2 separate regions of the Homo sapiens genome follow, and region 2 is linked to region 1. Evidence: fine-mapped expression QTL. A gene starts in region 1. The other region holds a variant in brackets. All regions are shown on one strand. Distances are from middle to middle. Region 1 holds the start of DYRK4 (dual specificity tyrosine phosphorylation regulated kinase 4). Region 2 overlaps DYRK4 (dual specificity tyrosine phosphorylation regulated kinase 4).

The links. PIP is the estimated chance that this variant, and not a neighbour inherited with it, causes the effect.
Region 2: its variant is fine-mapped to the expression of DYRK4 in whole blood (TOPMed, PIP above 0.99).

What each region holds. Positions count from the first base shown.
Region 1 is chr12:4,556,200-4,567,143 of GRCh38, forward strand. DYRK4 (dual specificity tyrosine phosphorylation regulated kinase 4) reads left to right here and starts at 6,009. Exons shown (of 15, transcript NM_001394779.1): 1 at 6,009-6,084. The coding sequence starts at 6,047. It overlaps RAD51AP1 (RAD51 associated protein 1), which reads left to right. Exons shown (of 9, transcript NM_006479.5): 8 at 154-303; 9 at 2,658-3,848. The coding sequence ends at 2,794. RefSeq lists a silencer at 5,844-6,138 and an enhancer at 10,194-10,273.
Region 2 is chr12:4,598,570-4,609,513 of GRCh38, forward strand. DYRK4 (dual specificity tyrosine phosphorylation regulated kinase 4) reads left to right here. Exons shown (of 15, transcript NM_001394779.1): 9 at 459-597; 10 at 1,138-1,219; 11 at 6,345-6,517; 12 at 8,758-8,818. It also overlaps the pseudogene LOC103568124. Among named protein-coding and RNA genes, the nearest start is that of DYRK4, 42 kb to the left of the region's middle. RefSeq lists an enhancer at 6,252-6,591. The variant G/A (reference allele first, on the strand shown) is at 6,283.

The DNA.
Region 1 (10,944 bases):
AAGATGGCTATTCTTAGGCTCTCAATAAATGTTTGTTGATTAATAAGTTTATTTTTTATATGATTATGTAACTTTATAATTTTTACACATATATGCTAGACTTACTTTTTCTTCCTGCATGACAAACATTTTTACGTATATTTTTCAAATAAGTGACTTCGGTGGACTCTGCTCCAGCTGCCGTCAAATCAGAATCTCAGTCCTTGCCAAAAAAGGTTTCTCTGTCTTCAGATACCACTAGGAAACCATTAGAAATACGCAGTCCTTCAGCTGAAAGCAAGAAACCTAAATGGGTCCCACCAGGTATGGCATATTTATCATCAAGGACAGGAGCTTGGAAAATTATCACTGGTAAATTTTTTTCCTAGTTACAAACATCATGTGTGAGCATTTCCCCATATTATTACATATTCTTCAAAACCAAAGTTCCTGGTTGCTGCATATATTCATTTATTTAACCATTCCTTATTATTGGACATCCAGGTTTATTATTTTTTCAGTGCTATAAATAAGATTGCAATAAGTGCAAATGTCCTTATTTTAGAAATCTCTGGGCATATTACTGATTATTTTCCTAGGATAAAATTTCTAGTAGGAAAATTACAGTGTTAAAGGGTGTAAACATTTGAGATTCCTGAAGTATGTATTTCTGGCAGCAAATCTTTTGCTCAGGACCTGCTGACCTCCACAGTCTGACTGAAGCCTTGGGATCTATATGTGGCAATTCTAGCATTTAACAAATGCCCTAGCAAACTCAACCTCTTGCTTTCACAAATTTCACTTCTCTGTTTTCTTTTGCTCCACAGCCAAGTCTCATGGATCCTTCAAGAATTCTTTGACCTTCACCCTTCTTGACATTACTAAAACCCTAATCCAGGCCCAAATTGTTGCTGCCTTTCCTAACCAGTCCTGTCTTTACTTTCTGTCATCCACCTGCATGAACCGTCCACTTCAGTGAAATTGAAACACTTTTTGTCTCTCAAACATGTTGTATGTATGCCTCTCTCAGGGCCTCTCTTAATCCTCCTCTGCCTGGTGTGTCTTTCTTCATGTGTCCCCTCTCCTTGCCTGAGCCCTTCCAATTCTACTCCTGTTTTTCTTTTGAGGGGCCTCTCTTGATTGGTCCACAGTGCTCACTCCCCTGCTGACTACTATTCATAGATTTAGGCGTGAGCTGTGAGGCTGCATGATTACTTAACTTACAGAGTCTTCATTTCATCATGTGAAATATTGGGAACAACTGTAATCTTTAAAGTCCATTCTGGTTTACAACTTCTAAGATTTTTAATGAGGACTTAAAAACTTTTTGGAGAAGGAAAGGAGGGAAGATTAATTACTTGATGTCATATCATTCAAAGAGTAATACTTAGTATATTTCTAAAAATAATTAATGCTTCCCCAATGAAGGAAATTTAAATGGAGTGATATAACTATAGAAATTTAAAAGTAGCATAATTAAAAAAATACAAGGAAACAGTGGAATGATGGATAAAGAGTTAATGTCATCAAGCACAAAGTGCTTATCAAGTCAGCATGTGACAGTCAGGCAAGTGATGTAAACGAGTGAATTGGGCCCATGCAGTAGACTTGCGTGGGTAGGAATTTTGTTGGACTCAGGAGCGCGTACCCTTTTGAAGGAAGCAGCTGCTACTCAGCTCCATCGTATTGTTTCCATGCAAGATTATGGGCTTGGTATTTCTAGATCTGATTGCTGTTTTCAAGAGAAGCCAGAAATCCAGATTTTAATATGAAATCTGCTAATTTTTGTAAGTTGATTTTTTTTGTTGTTGTTGTTAGCACCATGTGAACCAAAACAATATATCTGAGAGCTAGATTTGGCCCTCAGATTGCCAGTTTGTTACCTATCTTATACAACTGGAGAAGACCACCAAGACCCCAAAAGTAAAATTAGCCAGAGGCATAAATATAACAGTGTCCCCAAGAACTATTAATACAACAAGAAAATATGAAGAGTTTCAGTCTCACTGGTAATTAAGGAAGTGTAAATTAAAATAAAATACTATTTTATACCTTTCAAACTAGAAAACAATAAAGCAGTATAGTCTGAGTTATAGGGTAGCAGGTATAATTATTTATTTTAAATTTATAATACTGTTGTGTAGGCGAGCAACTACAGTCACCATCAACTGTGAACATTCATGTGGATAATTTTGAAATAGATGGAAATAATTGCGACATTAGGATAATAGTATAATGAAACTAGTATAAATAAATAACAATATTTGCCATTTTTAAAGGTATTTAATAATTGAAAAATAGACTCTTCAAGGACTACTTGTAAAAATTGCAGGACCTTAAAAATGCATTTGCTTTTTCTATTACTTTAGAAATTATAATTATATGCATTTTTGTATGCCTTTACAACTAGCATTATTTGTTCCCAGCCTTCCTTTTTCAGCTTTCATGGTGAGGTTTTAGTGTCATTACCTTGGCTTCTGGGATGTTTGGAAATAGGCAATACTGTATTAATTTCTGCTCTTTAGAACATTCTGTTCTTTTGATCTAGTTTATTGCTTGATAGACACTGGAAAGCAGAATAATGCTTAACTACCTTTTTTTTGCTGCTTATTTTATAAATTAATCTTTGTTAAGAGATTTCTGACATCATCAGCATCACATCATATGTTTCCTTTCAGCGGCATCTGGAGGTAGCAGAAGTAGCAGCAGCCCACTGGTGGTAGTGTCTGTGAAGTCTCCCAATCAGAGTCTCCGCCTTGGCTTGTCCAGATTAGCACGAGTTAAACCTTTGCATCCAAATGCCACTAGCACCTGAGTGTGGTACAGGAGGAATGTTTGGTTGGGAGAATCACAGCTTTACAAGGGTGTTTATATTTGATTTGTGTTTATATTTGAGGCAGGTATTGTAATATAAAGGAATCCATTACCATGTCCTATAAATGACCTCTAGCCATTTTATGATTATGTTCTCTGTAAAACTCTTCAAGACTTCAATGAGAAGTTTGTTTATAAGAATTATCTTCTCATACCTTTCCTTGTGAAGAGCGTATTCTGTTTTTCTATCAGTTCGACATGAAGTCCACATCACATGCTGTTCTTTTCTAGTTACATGATGTGCCTTTCTAGCTTTGTCTAGTTTATAGCACCTTAACTTTAACTGTTCAGTTTTATCTGGCAGAGGAAAACATTCTTATTTCTTTCAGAAGACATTTCTGAAATCTTATAAGCTACTTAAGCTACGTTGTCAGTTTTATCGCAAAGATGTTTTGTATTTTAGCCAAATCTTTTTATAGTACAAACTTAGAATTATTTTACACACTAAAATGGTTGCAGTTTTATGGCATATGTCTCCGATTTAGATGGTTATTCTCTAGAAAATAGTATTTAAAGACATTTTATGAAATCTTCATTGTCAAAACCTTTAATAAAAGTGGAAATATTTTGAAATGCCCTTTTTCTTGATACCACTCATCCACGTGTTCCTGATTGTCCACATTTCATGATAAAATGAGAGCTCCGCAGAGAATGTTAGCCTTTCTGTTGTAAATGTAATCTTCAAGTAGTCACTTTTTGTTAAGTTCTTTAGAAAGTAGTTGTCAAGTACTTAGTCATCCCTATTATGATATGAGATAGTACAGCTTTTCAGGAAGCTTAGATCTGAATTTACTTTGAAAAACAATTGTAATGAATATTTTATATTTACATTGAGAATTTCAACTAGCTTCTGATCAATTTTTAATAAAAAATTTTCAAATCATGTTAGCTGTTAAAAAATGTATAATAACTCAGTTTTTCTTGGTTTATGGAAATATCTATATTAATGTGAAAATAATTAATTTAGAATTGTGATTAAAGTGAGCATTTGTCTATTGCTGTTGTACACTTCTTTTATCTAACGTATATTTTTATAGTGTCATATACCAGCCCCCTAACCTGCCCCACCTGTCCCCTTTTTAAAAACATATTTTCCAGTTACATAGCACTGAGGTACTCTATTTGGTGTAGATCAACAATAAACATAAGAGCCTACTGTATATTAGGTACTGATATAATTGATTAATCATCTGGCACCAGCTCAATAACCTGTTTTTGCCGTGTTCTTTATAGTTTATCAGGGGATTTGAAAATTACCTCAAAGTATGTTAAAACCAGCCTGGCTGAAAGCACTGATACCTTTATGTTGCCAAACCCAGTGTACAATTTTCTCACCTAATCTTATACACCCTATTCATTATACTCTGATGAAAACATTTGATTTCCTTGGCTCATGTGACACATTTCTTTGTCATTTCTTCCCATCTCCATGCCTACTCTTCATTATTTTGCAGCTTTCTAATCTGTTGTGTCACCTTTACCTACTTGTCTTACCAGTTTCATGTTCTATGCAAACTCCAGGGGTCACTTATGTGACAGTGACTGCCAAGTCAGGGTCTGTACCCTATACCATGCTCTTGACAACAGAACCTGTGGATGGTCCACTGACAATTTGATGTAGCAGATCAGTTGTTAAATTCAACGTCTCCTCCTACCCCTGACATCTCTCCTGTGTTTTCTGTTGGTAAATGAATGGCACCACCATCACTGCAGGTGCCAAAGGTGTCATCCTGGGATTGAGTCTTCTCTCGACTTTCACATCCAGTCACCAAGTCTTACTCCATTTCCTAAATTTCTCAAAACTACTCTTCCATGTGCTCTCCCTTACTCTGAAACATCATCACTCACTATTTCTAACAGGCATCCTTGCCTTGATTCTTAACCTACTCGGGCCTACTTCCATTGTTATTGCCACAGAGGGTTTTATAAAATAAAGTCAGCATGAACACCCCTCTGCAGTCTGCACATACACACCTTACCCTGGTCGAGTTCATAGCCTACTTGGTGTCTGACTCCCCCTTTCCTGCTGCTTCAACCTTGTCTCTGCCCACGTGCAACTTTGATCCCTGCCCCACTAAACTGGGTGCTGGCACAATGGTACCAAGCTTTTCTATGGCTCTGGCCTTCAGAATAGGACTTGCCTCCTTTACGTAGACAACTACTGCCTGTCCTTGAAGACTCAGATTCAACTCAGCTCTTTCAGAAAGCTTCATTTGAATGTCTTTTCTGCCTGGACCAGACTGTGCACCTCCAGGTCAACCTACTGCCACTCAATTACAAATTTCCCTTTTCATGCTTTCTACAATCTGGTGCAGAGTAAGCACTCAAAAAGTGTTCAGCTGATATATGGATTTTACCCAGAACTTTTGCTATGTACTTACTTTTTTTCTTTTTCTTTTTCTTTTTTTCTTTTTTTTTTTTTTTTTTGAGATGCAGTCTCGTTCTGTCGCCAGGCTGGAGTGCAGTGGCGCGATCTCGGCTCACTGCAACCTCCGCCTCCCGGGTTCCAGCGATTCTCCTGCCTCAGCCTCCCAAGTAGCTGGGACTACAGGCACGCACCACCACGCCCCGCTTATTTTTGTATTTTTAGTAGAGACGGGGTTTCACCATGTTGGCCAGGATGGTCTTGATCTCTTGGCCTCGTGATCCACCCGCCTTGGCCTCTCAAAGTGCTGGGATTACAGAAAAAAATGTCTAAATAGAGACAGGGGCGGGGGGGTCTCACTACTTTGAGCAGTTTGGTCTCGAACTCCAGACCTCAAGTGGTCTGCCTAGGCCTCCCAAAGTGCTGGGATTGCAGGTGTAAAACCACCGCGCCCGGCCAGAACTTCTGTGATGTAATTCTGATAACCACATGCTTCGCTTGAAGAAGGGGAGAGAGTAGGGATAATTTCATGTGTCCGGTCTGGGCAACCAACTTTAAGTTCTTTATGCTGGGATTTTGTTCAATTCTTGCCCTATACTTTAAAGAACTGGGGCAAGAGAATGCGAGTAGGAGGACGAGGAGTATGTTCTTCAGGCTGCTACTCTGCAAGGTGGTTTGGGACCACAGCCTGAGAAAGCCCTTCCAGCTCTGGAGTCATAAAAAGGGCGGGAGCCGTTTCTATAGCGACGGGAGGAGGGCGTGGCCGTCCCTTGCCCTCTGCCGGGCTCTCACAGCCTCCCGCAGCGGCGGGCGGTCAGCGCCGGCCTCATGCAGCTCCTCCCGCCGCCTATCCGCACCGGAACAAAGTAAGGGCCGCGGAGGCTCGTACTTCACGAGCAGTCAGGCGCGAGTACGAGGCAGGCGACGAAGCTTCTGGTCGACGGGGTCGTGGGGGGAGAATGAAAAGCGTGCAGAATGCAAGAGCTGACCGGGGAATGTGGGTCAGAGAGAGGCGGGCTGTGGTGCGCGGACAAGAAAATACAGTTGTAGTTTTTGCAGCAGCTGCATCCCCGGAATCCGACGTCAGTATACTTCCATGTTAAGATGCTGTCGCATCGGCGACTCCAGCTGAGTGCAGGACAGGGAGCGAGGGGTTCTGAGGAACTCAGCAGACCTATCCTGGAACTGTGCTTCCAGCCCTCACTGGGACGCCAGACTTTCTTCCTCCCTTTCTTTCTCTTCTTTACTGCATGTCCTCTTGGTAGTCGTAAGTGGGTCCACGACCACACGCCTCGCGTGGATGAGGCTCTGGCAGGCATTACTCATGTTCCCACCCAGCCCATATGCCCGGGCACCTCTGTGCTCAACCAGGGCCCAGCCCCTGACACAAAAGCGCGCGAAGGTGTGTGTAGATCACACACCCAGAGCTGCCACTCAGGAAATTCCCAATATTAGCAAATCTTTCCTTAAAAAAGAGATGAACAATGCACAATTTGAGGGTTTTTAAAGGCTATTCTGTGACATTTGCTGCATTTGAAATGTCCAGCAGCCCCTCAAAGCTTAGGAAAACCGTGACCCCTCTGACATGTCTTAAGCAACGGACAGCATCACCAATATTAATTCAAGCTTCACTGTCCAGGCTTAAGTGGAGACTCGGCAAAAGCAGGAGGCCATTTAGTGGAAAAGTTCAAACCGTGGAAACAACAAATGAAAATGTCCTTTGTCTTGCTTGAGCGATTTGATCACCTACATGTGGTCGGTATGTAAAACCTAGGAGTTCGAAGAAATTCTTCAAACATGCACTCTACCTTATTGTTTCTGTTACTTAAATCTGTTGTTTCTCTTGTTTGTTTTGGTCCTTATGGAGAAAGCAGAGGTAAATCGGAAGGGACTCTCTAGCAATATGCCAGCCACTCTTCCCTGACTTTGCCCTCTCCAACTCCACATATTGTTGCCTGCAACTTGGCTAGAATGCATAGTCCTCAAGCGTGTGGAGGACCCAGTGCTGGGATTTAGTGGTTTTAGCTGACTCTAAGCCCATCGTGAGTGTGTTGTGATGGCTCCCCAAAGAGCAAATGCTGGTGGAGGCTGCATTCATAGAAATGCAATGACCACATCAAAGAATATGGTCGTGCTGCCTGACTTAGCAATGAGTAGAACATAATCCAGACTCTAGAAACTGTAGCTACTTTGAGATCACAAAGAACTGGAAAATAGGAACAACCACAAGGCAGGCTCTCTCTGTCAGGCCTGGGTGTGCCATCACATGAAGAGAGGTTTGAAAAAACTTCACAGAATGCCTGGAGATGAGGAGATGCAAGGGAGAGAAAGCTTTTTTCTACTCAACTTTTGAACATTCAAGAACTCTTGAGTAGAAAAGAGATAGATTTGTTCCTTGGTACTCTGCAGAGGATAGCAAGGATCAGTGGAGGAAATTTTGCTCAATATAGTTTATTCTTCCAAGAAATATCAAGTACCAACCCTATGTAAATTAACAGTTGAGTGTGAAATGGGTTGCCTAGAAAAACAGTGCACTCTGTCATAGAAATATTCCAGCATAGACAGAGTGATTGCCAGGAATACCATAGAAAGAGGATTCTTCCCCAGGGTGGGAAAATGGATGACATGGTCTCCAAAACCTCTTCTAGCTCTTTAGAGTCTGGGAGTCAGTGAACCCTCAAGAGTCTCAGGGATATATGCAGAGGGTCCAAGGAATTCTCTGGCAGAAATGAGTGTGACTTAAAATACATTTAGATAGAAGAAATAAGACCTAGTGTTTAATAAATCAGTAGAATGACAATAGTAAACAATAATCTATTGTATATTTCAAAATAGCTAGTAGAGAATAATTTGAAGCCCTGACTTGATTATATATTATATAAATATAAATATACATCTATTATATATCAATTAAAAAATGAATGTAACTTAAGTTCATTAAAAACATTATCACCTGTTCACAGAATGCAAACGGAATCCCTGCAAACCCTGCACTGCCATACTTTCTGCCCCAAAGACAGCCCCCAGGGCATAAAGATCAAGCTACTGGCAATTGCAGTAGAAATCCTAAAATCATAACAGGTAAATCTCAAAAGACTTGTTTCCTTTCTGGATATTGAAGTACTCTATACACAGATGATGTGTATATATTAATATAAAATACTATGCAGTGCAGTAAGGCTGGCACCTCTGTGGATCTGCCTTAACCTTGAGTCTTCGAACTCCTTGAAAACAAGGCTTCTGTTTTATTTATCTTTGAATCCTCCATGCTTAGCCCAGTAGCTGGCACACAGTTGATGCTCTGGAATTTTTTGATGAATTAATCTATTTTAGATTTCTCTTCCCTCAGCAAATTTGTACCAAGTTTTCAACAGACAAGTCACTGTCCTTACCCCAAAAGGAATTTTTTAAAAATGCAGGATCACCATCTATGTCTCCAAAAGACTAACAATCAATATGAGACAAAAAATATATGCACCTAAGATAATTAAATGACACTAAAGCTCTTGACCAAGTGAAAAAATGGTTTCTTAGGCAAACACACGATTGAACGCTCGAGGAAAGAGAGGAAGGGGAAGGAGAACTCCGATCTGCATGTAAGATGAAATGAGAATGGCCAAACTTTTGGTTTCAGTTCTCAAAGGAACATTCACTCTAGCTCTGAGCTGAGTTTATTAGTTATCTTCAATCCTTCATGTAACAAGATACAAACGAAATATAAAAAGCAGTTTAATTCTTTTCCACATAGCTCACCACATATTTTGAGGATAAAAAGGTAGCATTTGCAAAGCTTTGAGCAAGGGTTAAGTTGTACTGTTGGAAGCCAGAGTTCATGCATAAAAAAAGAAAGGCACAAAATAGTCTTTAATAATCACAGAATTATCCAAGGGATGGCAAAGTTGGAATAAGTCACAAGAGATTTTTTTTTCAGTCTGTCAGTATTTTTGTAGAATTAAAGAAATTTAGACCCCAAAGGGACTTTAGAAGTCACCTGCTCCAGTCTCCAGTCTCATTATTTTGCAGATGAGGAAATAGCACAGAGAGGACAAATGGCTCATTCAAAATCATGGCACTGTGTGTTAGGTGGCATTGTGACGAGGCTCCATGATTCCTCAGCGTTTCCTTCAGTGTTTGCTCCTTCTCTGCCTCCAGCGCTGTCAGAGCTGAACAGAGGAAAGGGCTCCAGCTGTTTGGAAGATTTCACATTTACTTTTTTTTTTTTTTTTAAGATGGAGTCTTGCTCTGTTGCCCAGGCTGGAGTGCAGTGGTGCAATCTCCGCTCACTGCAACCTCTGCCTTCCGGATTCAGGAGATTCTCCTGCCTCATCCTCCCGAGTAGCTGGGATTACAGGCGTGAGGCACCACACACAGCTAACTTCTTTTGTATTTTTAGTAGAGATGGAGTTTCACCATGTTGGCCAGGCTGGTCTTGAATTCCTGACCTCAGATGATCCACCCGCCACGGCCTCCCAAAGTGCTGGGATTACAGGCGTGAGCCACCATGCCCATCCCACATGTACTTTCATAGTCTCCTACATCTCTGTGAAGTAAAGGAAGGCAACACTCGATACAGAGTCTTGGCAGGAAAAATTTTTGTGTTCATTTTTGCCCAATGTTGCGATTTTACAAATCCCATGTCCAGTTGATGGCCACAATTCTACCTGTTCTGTCTCCCAAATCTTTCCCAAGTTCATACTTCTATCCCCACTGTCAGTGCCTTGGTTGAGGCTCTCATTCACTCTTATCTAGACACCCAAAATGCCTTCCTAGTTCCTCCAAATCGTGCTTCGTGATATTGCCAGAGAAATGGTACCAGAATACAAATCTGATCTTCAGCCCAGGTTTAGCATAGCCACGCAGGCTCCAAGACTCTAACTTGGACTACGTGCCCCTTTACAACCTAATCTACCTCCCTGGCCCTCCATCGGCAATGTCCAAGGACAGTGCTCAAAATTTCTGGAAAAAACAATGTTCTTTCATATTTATGTTCTTTGTGTGTCCTCCTCCATCTGCCCTTGACACTCCTGCCTGCTCTGCTCATTCTTCAGAGATGGTTCTACCCTGCTCAAGCGTGAAGGCTTCCTCAGCTCCTCCAGCTGACTTAGTCAACACCTGGAAACATGCTCTGGGAGCTGGTTGCAGAAGGCTGTATTAATACATCGATCACATGCATTGTCATGATCTACTTTCTTCTATGTACCTCCTTTCCTGGATAAGGAGTTTTCTTTGAGGGCAGAGACCATGTCTGGTTTATCAGTGAAATTGTCTCAGCAAATGTTTATAGAAAGAAAGGAAGAGAAGGAAGAAGTGAAACTATGATCTTAAGCAGAGAAGTTACTGGTAATTTTTGTTTGCTTTTGTGCAGGATTTTTTCATATTGTCTGTATGTGTGTGTATGTTAAAGTTAATGTTCCTACTTACCTCCCCCAGCCCTACTGAGAAGAGGTCACTATTACAGTTCATTTCTTCTAGATCTTTCAATATGCCTGTATAAAGACATGCAAGCATTTTGTTTTCTGTTAAATAAATATAGAATTATATTACACACATGTTCTACTGTTTTTGCTCAATACATTATGGGCACATATAAAGATCTATCTTATTTTTTAAATGGCTGCATTATATTTCATAAAACATATGTGTGCCATGAATTGTTAACTTCCCATTATGGACAAGTTCTGATTTTTCAATAGTTATACTGCAAGAAATGTTAGCATGACTTTTCT
Region 2 (10,944 bases), 42 kb after region 1:
AGGGGCTCCCTTTGGCCTCAGCCCCCATCTGCCCACTCTCTTGTTCCTTACTTGTCAGGAACCTCATGTCCTTAGACAGCCCTTATTAGGCCTGGGCAGGAGTGGCTGCTTGTTTGAGTGACTGGTGGGCTTCCTGGTTCCCTCCCAAGGGCCTGAGGAACTATGACTATTTCAGAAGTTTGGGCCAACCTCTTAACCCGCCTGCATAACAAAGTGCTTCAGTGGCCTTGTCACATCAGAAATGAGGGGACATCTGAGAGTCTGACACAGTTTCACCCTGCGCCCACCACGATTCAGTGGGAAAGCTGAGTCTATAAGGGCATGAAAGCCTTGCCTCCTGGCCTGAGGCTTGCCTGCTACTAGACGGAAACCAGGTGATACAAGATTGTTTGCAGGTTCAAACTCAGCCTTATATGTTTTTTTACACCCATATGCATCACTTTTCCCCTCTTTTCCAGAATCAACTTGTATGAGTTGATGAAGAATAACAACTTTCAAGGCTTCAGTCTGTCCATAGTTCGGCGCTTCACTCTCTCTGTTTTGAAGTGCTTGCAGATGCTTTCGGTAGAGAAAATCATTCACTGTGATCTCAAGCCCGTGAGTACCATCTCCGTCCTGCCATGGACACACTCTGGAAATACCCATTCTATTCCCCAGGCCGTGTAACAATCACAAACTCCAATCAAATAATTGCCTTTGACTTTTTTTTTTTTTTTTTTTTTTGGTGCTCTACTGTCATGGCAGTATATCAAGGGAGGGCATTTCGTGGGAATGTCGAACAAATTCAGTCAATGGCATTTCTAAGGCCGTGCAAGCAAGGCCTAGAACCAGGTGCCAAAGAAGATAAAAACAAAGTCACTATCTTCAGGAGTTGCAGAATCAATAGGGGGAAAGTGACAAATATATGCAAAAGAAACTGTGCAAAGCAGTGACTATGAGGTCTGAATGAGAAACGCCGACCACAAGTCAAATGGAAAGTCAGAGCGGAGGATGATGGGATTTTGGAGAGGATGTGGGAGGATGCCCATGGAGGTGGTCATATTTGAACTGGGCCCTGAAGGATGAGGAGCATTTAGGTAAGTAGAGGGCCTAGGGCCGCATTACTGTAGCTTGACATATGTCTTTTCTTCTCTCTAGGAAAATATAGTGCTATACCAAAAGGGCCAAGCCTCTGTTAAAGTCATTGACTTTGGATCAAGCTGTTATGAACACCAGAAAGGTGAGCCCCATGTCAGTCCCATCATCTGAGTTTTCCTATTGCAATTTCTCTCCCTTCACATACAAGGTCACCTGCCTTCTAGGCTGCGCTCAGCTGTCACCACTACCAGTATGATTTTGAACAAGGTGCTTCGCTTCTCTGAGCCCAAGTTGCCTCATCTACAATTTGAGAAAGTTGTATCCAAATACTAGAAGGGTGCTTTCAAGCTCTCATATTCTGTAGATATGGAATTATCCTAGAACAGTGAGCCCCAAAACTAACTAACTGTGTATCTGAATTGCTTTGGGGCTCTGAAAAATTGTAGTTTGTTCCTAATTCAAATTTCTGGGAAGTAGCTAGAAGTCTGCGCTTCAGAAACCACAGTCATTCTGAAGTTTGGAATTCACTGCCCCAGATCCTCTAGGTTTTATTCTTTTTCAAGCTAGGATCCAAAAAAGTAGCTCTGGAGTACATTTTCACAGCGTTTACTGAACTTTATTTAATATTGTGTTCTTTCGGCTTCTATCAGGTTCGCTATAGAGAACACGTACCATTCAACAGACATTTGTGATCTGTTTTGTGTCAGTCACTGTCCTGGGTACCAGGAACAATTAGTGAACATTCCCTGTCCTCAGGTTGCTTACTATCTAATGTAAGAGACAGAAAGATAAAAATAATATGGTGAATACAATGATTAGAGATATACACAGGCTGTGTTAAAGATATACAACACAGGGACTTTGGGACCAGCTTTTAAGGTGGCAAGGGCTGTCAGAGGAAGCTTCCTGAGGCTGAAGACGGGACTACTAGATGGATGTTTCCAAATATTTGGTGGATCAATTTTTTTTCAGGGAAACACATATACAAGTTTATTAATAAAGAATATAATAAAAGACACAGATGAAGAGATACACAAGGCAAAGTATTGAGAAGGGGTGTGAAGCTTCCATGCCCTCTTGGGGGCACGCCACCCTCCCAACACCACGTTTCCCATACCCTGGAAGCTCTCTGAATCCTGCAGCTTGGGGATTTTTATGAAGGCGTCATCACATAGTCATTGAAGTTATTAACTCAATCTCTAGCCCCTTCCCCCTTCCTAGAAGAAAGGAGTTAGAACTGAAAGTTCCAAGTTTCTAATCATGGCTTAGTCTTTCTGGCAACCAGCCCCTATTCAGGAGCCCACCAAGAGTCATCTCATTAGAACAAAGAGAGTCCTATCACCTAAGAAGTTCCAAAGGATTAGGAGCTCTGTGTCAGAAGCCAGGATAAAAGGTCAATTATTAGAACAAGAGATACATGTAGAACCCCTATCACTCAAGAAATTAAAAAGGTTTTAGGAGCTCTGTTCCAAAAACTAGGGGTAAAGTCCTATATCTATTTCTTATTGTGTCTCACACATGCTCATATACAAGCATGTATATTATTAGTTTGAAGAAAAAAATAAGTCAATGCACCACATACAGTGTTAGCCATTCACTCTCACACACTGTTGGAGGAACTGTGAATTCATATTATCTTTTGGGAGGATACTTTTGCATCTGTAACCAAACATTTCACTCTAAACCTTCAAAAATTATAAATTCCCCTCTGAAGAACCTCTCCTACAGATTACAGATGTTCTCATAGAATGTACATCTTCACTACTGCACTGTTAGCTAGCACAACATTGGAACCAACCTAAACATCTACAAATGAAGAAGGGTTTAATAAATTAACGCTGTAATACCACGCAGCTATTTGAAAAGAGAGATTTAAATGTAATGGCCTAGACAGATGTCCATGATGAAGTAAGTGGAAAAAAAACTGAATAATGAAACTTTTGACATGTAAATGTATAAATATAAAGAAGATATAAAAGGATTTGCACCACACTGTTAAAAGTGGTTATCACTGGAGATGAGCCTGGAAGAGCTTAGGGTTGAATTTTCAACTTTTACTTTACATATATATCTTTTTTTTAGTAAGGATATGGATGATTTTCAAAATTTTCTCTTGGATTTTCAATTTTTAAAATTTTTTTAAATTAAATAATTTGGTGTCTTTAATTTGCTAAAGATTTACATAAGATTTCCATATGTCTAGTCTTAAGTGAGACCAGTCTGTAGGGTTTGTGTGTGTGTGTGTGTGTGTGTGTGTGTGTGTGTATCTTTGTCCTGTTTGAATACCAAAGTTGCATCTTGAAAAAATGAATTGATCATTTTCTATTTTCTGTTCCTTCAAAGTCTGAACAAAATAGGAATCATTTTATTTTCACAAGGCCTCTTAGAACCTAATTGGAAAGTTATCTGCATGTTGCATCTTTCTCAAGGGTAGTTCTTGAACCACTTTTCTACTTCTTTCATAGGCTGATATCCAGACTCCCTTTTGTAATTAAGTTCAGCTTTCATATCTGTATGAACTTATTTTTCAGAAAAGTTTTACTTACTCTGCTGTTCATGTCTTCAATCTGCTTTGCTTGCTGAATTCTCCTCATTTCTAAGACCTGCTCTCTTTTCTTTTGCAACCATGCTTTAAATACTATGCCATTCTCCCTCTTTTTTTCTTCCTCTTCTTCTATTTTCTGTTGCTCTTCCTCTCTTTTCAGCTTTTCTCTCTTTTGTTCTCGTTTTGTAGTTCTTTCTGTCAAGGGGAAAGACAGTATGTTGAGGTCACTGATGAGATATGTGCAGACTGTCCTGATTAGATTTCCCATTCCCTTTACTTCGATCTGAGATGGCAGCAGAGCTTGGACAAGTCTTGCGGTTGAGTGGTGGGATATAAGCCAACTTATAAGTGGAGGGATATAAGCCAACGGCTCTCCTGTTGATGAGTGAGTGACAACATCAATCTTTGCTGCAGAATCTTCTTTCTTGATGCCACTGACACAGGAGTTGGAAGATCTGGGTAACACCTGCTGAGGGTCATTTTCTGTACTATTTGCATTATTAATGGGAGGCAAATACCCCTGACTCTTCAATGTCTTGTAAATTCAGAAGTTCAAATTTTCCATCTCTCTCTACCAGTATTGTCCTATCCTTGTTTATTTCACAGCTTCCATTAATAAGTGACAGGAGCATATTTTCTTGTCCCAAATCATTGGAAATACATCACTGTGACAGTTTCCCAAATATATTTCTTTCATTTTCAAAATAACTTTTGTAAGTATTAGTGTCTTTTAGTGGAGGAACTTCCAGATCAACTAATTTGTCCTTGAGCTTAAATTTTCACTCCCTTTTATCATTCACGGGTTCTTGATTCTATAGAAGCTTGTTAGCTTGTACAATTTTCTCCATAATGTATCACCTTACTTCCTCATCCTCTTCCTCCTCCAAGTCTTTCTGGCTTTCTAGTTTGGACTCCTGGAAAGAGTTTTCACTATCTGAATCTGATATGGGATCCAAAGGTTGAATACTCGGTACCGAAATGAAGTCATTTCTTCTTGGTGAGACCTCATCCTGCAAAGATTTGTCAGGATCAGAAAGCTGTTTGCTGTGTTCTATTACTGTTTCATTCTCTTTTAAGTCTTGGTTAATATTCTCTTCCTTCTCACAAGCCATCTCTATTATGCTGGCATCACTTTTTTCATTTTCATTAGTTAACCCCTCCAGGTCCTTTTCAGATTCATCTTTGTATTCTTCACTTTCTTTTGAATCAGTCTCTTTATTTTCATTCATTTTCCTCTCTCCCACCATTAATATTTCTACTCCACACCGTCCTTCCCTTCTCTCCCTCTGTTTCCCTCCTGTCTGTGTAAAATGCGGCGGCTGGGGTCACAGAGACGGCCAGGGGAGTTCTCCTCTCCTCCGCTTTCTAAGCTCTTCACATCGAGGCAAGGGAGACCCTGGCACCTGCCTCCGCAGCAGCCAGGACCACACTGCCATGGCAACAGCATGCCTCTGTGTCCTCCATCTGGGCCTCTCTGGCAGATCAATTTTTGAGGACATAAAACCTTTGTGTCTTTATGTATGAATCCTATAAGAAATTCCAGCTAAAAAGTAATGCTTCCCACAAAGAACTTGTATGTTTTCCCTTCTCAGATGTTGAAAGCTGTGTAACTTTTCAGTTTTCATTTATCTTGGCTGCCAAGATGCTCGGAACTGAATTCGTAATTATTTTATCCTTGGTTTCTAGCAGTCATTTCCCCCTTTGCATATTTTCTGACATCTTTTTTATCTTTATTTTAACTGTGAGGCAGTATCTAATATTGATGCTAGAATTAAACTGCCTACTCTCAAATCCCAGCTCTGTCACTTATAGCTGAGTAACCTTGACATTTTAACCTCTGTATGCCTCAGTTTTCTCTTCTTTAAATTGGAGGCAATAATACTACTTGCTTCACAGAATTAATGTAAGGGTTGAAAGGGCTTATCTATAAAAGTACTTGGAATCGTGCCTGGCACATACTAAACATAATGTAAATACCATTAAATCCATGTTCTAAAATACTCTGTGCATGTGTACTTTGCAAAGTACCACAAACACATTTGGGAAGCAGGCAGGATATAAACATTATTTTTATTAAATCTCTATTTTGTTTTAAATCACAGAATTATGTTCTGACAATAACCAATTTAAACAACAGAAAAGTGGTTACAGAATCCCTGCCCCTCCCCAGGTAACCAGAAACCCCAGTTATGCGGAAATAACTACCGTGTTCCATTTCTTCGACTTCAGTCTGTTCATCCTCACCTGTTGAGAATTTTCTTTCTATACAATAAGTGCACATGCTATATTGAATACAGACTTTGCATGCTCCCTTTCTAACTTGATATGCTCCCTTTCTAACTTGATAACTCTCTTGCCAAGTCACAAGACTCAGAAGCTGTCTACCCCAAATCAATCTGACAGTTTGAAAACTTAGTCTTATATTTGTCTTATGTTTTGTTTGTTTGTTATAAACTTGGCTCACTTAGATTCACTTTCCTACGACAGTGCCCACGTTGGAGTTCGTTATCAATAAAGCAGGGACAGTCACACCTCCTTTATAATCAGGTTGCTGGCGGATTTGATGCTGTGATGGTGTAATGGGAGTTCTAAGTGCTGGCCAGCTGCACTTCCCTTTCACTGCCAGCGGGGGCGCAGTCTAACTGAGAAGTTGTCCTGGG[G/A]GAGAGCGTTCTGGAGGGTAAGAAGTTTGTCCCACGAGGTTTCTCTTACTTTGCCTCCGCAGTATACACGTACATCCAAAGCCGGTTCTACCGATCCCCAGAAGTGATCCTGGGCCACCCCTACGACGTGGCCATTGACATGTGGAGCCTGGGCTGCATCACGGCGGAGTTGTACACGGGCTACCCCCTGTTCCCCGGGGAGAATGAGGTGGAGCAGCTGGCCTGCATCATGGAGGTACGCGGAGGGCTGGCGGTCGGCTCCCACGGAGACCGTGGGCTTGGCCCTCAGACACGGGGCTGCACCAGACTCGCCCAGGACCATGGCCTGCATACCTTGTTGTTGTTGTTGTTGTTGAGTATTCCCTAAAAGGAGTTTTGAAATTGTGTACTCCCTTGTACTTGTCAAGTCGACATCTAACGTTTTATCATAAATTTAAATAGTTGCAGAGGATGTCATTTCCATCATATTGTAAATAGTGACATTTTAAAATAAAATTACACCGCTCTTTCAAAAATATCCAAAAGAATGCAAAACCAGACGGACATGACACCCATTAAAATCTATCTGATAGTATGTGAACAGGTTCTTAAGAGTTGTGCCATGATTTTACTTTGTTCTTTTTTCCCTTTTGTTTCTACTCTTTTTTCTACTTCCTCTATGGAATTTTATTCTAATTTAATATACGTTTATGTTTAGAAACTTCTATCAATCATTATAGCTTTAAAAATTTCCTGATACCGTAAGCCTCATGTGTAAAAATTTCTTTCTGGTAAGTTACCATTAAAATATATCTGGTGTGCAAATTTTGATAATTATTGAAAATAAAATGTGAAATCTTATTGGGCATACAGCTCTTAGAAAAATGAATAGAGCTGGGTTTTTTTTTTTTTTTTTTTTTTTTTTCCAAATTAATGCCTATACCCATAGGTGAATAATGCTTCTTGCTAGAATGCCCGGGCTCGGGATCAATGTGATTCCAATTGCTTGGTGGTGTAGATGTGAACCCAGTGAGGAAGCCTGTTCTAATTAATGTCGTCTAATTCGGTGACTCCTTTTGAGTTCTGTGTAAGAATCAAATGGTGATCTGTCATCTAAAATTATGTTTACCAGCCTGTCAGCTGACAACCCGATTAAAATGTTGAAAACAAAGAATTGGAAATTATTTGACTTCAAAGTATGTGTATTGTTCAGGCATTAGTCATTCATTATGGGAAATGACAGTTTTCTGGGAAAACTATCTCCTAATAGCAAGGCTTGACCAAGACTCATGATATGATTATTAATTATATCTATTATGCTTTCACTTGAAAGCCATCTTGTTTTGGAAATAAATTAGACAAAATAGAAAAATAACTTTAAAAATTTTAAATTTTACATTTTAGGATTTTCCCAGTGAACAAAGATATTTTGTGTGCAAACACCAAGCTAGCTGGCTGGCTGGCTATCTATCTATCTATCTATCTATCTATCTATGTATCTGTATCTATCTATCTTTGCCAAATTTCTATTTTCCAGATTGTCTCAAAGTTACAGAGAAACACATATAGCCTTGAGAATGACTAAACATAGATAATTTCATTTCATGATCGAAACTAATAATAAAATATTAAAATAACTTAGGTAAAAATAGCTGTGGTGGAATGAACACTGGCCTGCGAGTCATTAAACCTGGGGTCTTAGTCCTGGCTCTGTCTTTTTGACTAGGCATTTCCCAGCTCTGGACTATAAAATGAGGGGAGCAGAGAAGATGGCTTCTAAGGTTGATAATGAATGATTTTATAAAGCATCCCCAGACCACTCCTGCTTCCAATACCAAAGAGAACGGGGCCTATGTTTCAAATTTCCTACAGCCCCAGAACTGACTCAGCTTCCTCTTGACCTCAGTGTCAAAGGGTCTGAGGAACAGAAGAGCAGGATAATGGATGGATTATGGGTGGGAACCGAGCAGCAAGGGCAGGTGACCCACACTGTAATTTCCTTATCTCTGTGTGCCCCTCTAAGTTGCAGTAGGAAAAGATGAACAAGTAGGTGCTACACTTTTCTTTTCAAGAAGGTATTTTGTCTTATAATTGTCTGATGCTCATCCGGTGATTTTCATCTTTTCTTCTCCCTTTCCAGTGCTCCATGGTGGGATATATCATTCTTTAATTCTGACATGGCAGCATGTGTACTAGTTTATTTGCTTTGACAATGACATCTGGCTGCTATCAAGGGTGGTGGCCCACCCCTAGTTGGTGCTGATGTTTGTGTAGAATAACATGGCCAGTGTTGATTCTTAGGATATGAAACCAGCCCTGGATTAGGAGTTAAAAGGCCCAGGCTCTGGGTTTGCTCTGCTACTGACCAGATGTTATTACTTAATGCTTTGAATCCTTATCTGTAGAAGGCAAAGCTTGGCCAAAGTACGCTCCACCCCTCAGCCTTTGAATCTGTGCTCCCACAAAGAATGAACCAATTGAATTATCCTTATTAAGGTGCTGGGTCTGCCGCCAGCCGGCTTCATTCAGACAGCCTCCAGGAGACAGACATTCTTTGGTAAGTCCTAGTGTGTCTCATGAGGTGTCACAGGCCTTGAAGACACCTGCCATACCTTAAGGCTCATTTCATTCTTTTCCCCTGGCCACATACCAAAGGGCTGTGATTAAGAGCGTCTTTCAGAGAAGTAAAAGATAATGAGCAGGGGAATCGGATAGCATGTTGGAGATGGGATGGGGGAGTCACAGTGGGAACAGGGTCTTGACAGTAAAAATGCTCAGGAGGAGGAGAATAGCCAGGTCCCTGCTCAGAAGAGCTATCAGCAAATATTGCAACCTCAAAATATTGTAACTGCATCCTCTCCCGGAAGTTCTCCCCACTCTCCCAAGCAACTTGCCCTCTCACACTATGCACTGTGCAGGGAAATCAAAGAGCAGAAGCTTCATTTCAAGAATAGTGGAAAATTCCATTGCTGCATTATTGTTTCCCCTGCTAAAATTCTTCTTATCCTCCAGACCTTACTGTGCCAGGTTCATTGCCAATGGTTAAGCAAGGACTTAGTTTTGCTTTGATGTGTTGTGGCTGGTAGTTATGTACGTGTCATCTGTCTGATTGTTGGGAGTAAACTTCGTCCACAGTCCAGGCTGCCCCTCTCCTCATAATTCCCAGAATTCTGGATTTTTATGATCCTCCGCCTTTCTATTTAAGTGGTCCTATACAAGATGGAAGGATGGGTCGACAAGGTATCAACTGAGGCAGGGCTTTCAACGTACACGCACCAAAAAGATGCAGCAAATCTCATACCTAAAATCCCTTTAAAGAACCACAGGAAGCTAAGAGTCCCAGATAGAAACAGCCAGAGTGGGCTGAAGGTCAGCAAAGTGGAGCAAAGCCAAATAGGAGGAAAAGGGAACTCCACAGACAGGGACTCCATGCTACCTGGAGTGACATTTCTGACCAGCCATTGTTGTCAGGTCGGTTCATGGACTCCCTCTGACCACACAATCCCAGACATTCCTGGCCCTCCCACCTCTGATTTTCAACTGCGAGCAGCTTCTGAATATGTATGCAAATCACACAATTTCTGTTCACAACTTGCTCCATCAGTAGGAAGGTCCAAAACACTCTCGTGGGGAGATCCTTTAGGATAAAAGGGTTTGGGTCATGCTGGTCAGTATGAACTGATTCAGCCATGTGGGGGTTATAATTTGTCTATTTCTGTACCATTTGGTAAAAAGCCACAGCCCTGAGCCCTGCTACAACTGCAGGCTCCCTGGCCCTCTCCCAGGACTCCTTAAACTCTCCATGATCCAAAAACCTAAAAGCTGAAGGCCAAGCAAGCAGAAGTTCTCTATGATCCTACTCCAGTGCCAGGGCTGTCTTCCATTCTGATTAGTTGGTTCCATGCCATTCATTCCAATGGTTAATTCTTTTAAACATCATCTGGTAATCATGGCTGGAGCTTTGGAGACCTTGCCTCTGAGCAGGGCAGTGTCCTGGTTGCCATAGAATGGTGACCACACATTAACCGAGCAATCTGGCGGTAGGCAAAGGATCTGGCTGGCTCCCCAGTATAATTTACACATGGAGCACGCGAACTGGTCTTTGGATCCCAAATATACTTTTTCTACCCACAACTTAATAATTCAGCCTTTTGGATTAGGCAGAGTCACTGTGGGAAGACATATCTTGAGCCTGTAACTCTGAACTCATGAGATAGCATCTAGGTGGGGACTAGCAGGAAGGGAACACAGAGCACCTTCGTAGGAACGTACTAAAGACATAGGCATGTCTACTTCATAGAGTTCCTTATTTCTACCATCAGCACTAGGCTTTAGGATGGTGATGGGGTTTTGGCAGCAATATCCATGTCTTCACTTCCTGTGAAAGAAGGAATGTTGCTGAGAACTGCATCTTCGTCAGTGTTTTCCAAACTCTATCCAAATGTAAGAATCATTTGGGGACTTGGCAAAAAAGCGAATTCCTGTGATTCTCTTCTATAAGCTATGCTATGGGAAGATTGCGATAGGACCCAGGATTCGACGTTTTTAATGACGGCTCCTTGTGATTCTTATGACAAAATAAGTTTGGGAAACACGGTTGTCCACTTCAGTTCTTGACTGTTCCTTTCCCAGGTTTGGGCTGCCAACTGCTCCTCTGCCCCGGGCGACTCCTAGTTAATACCC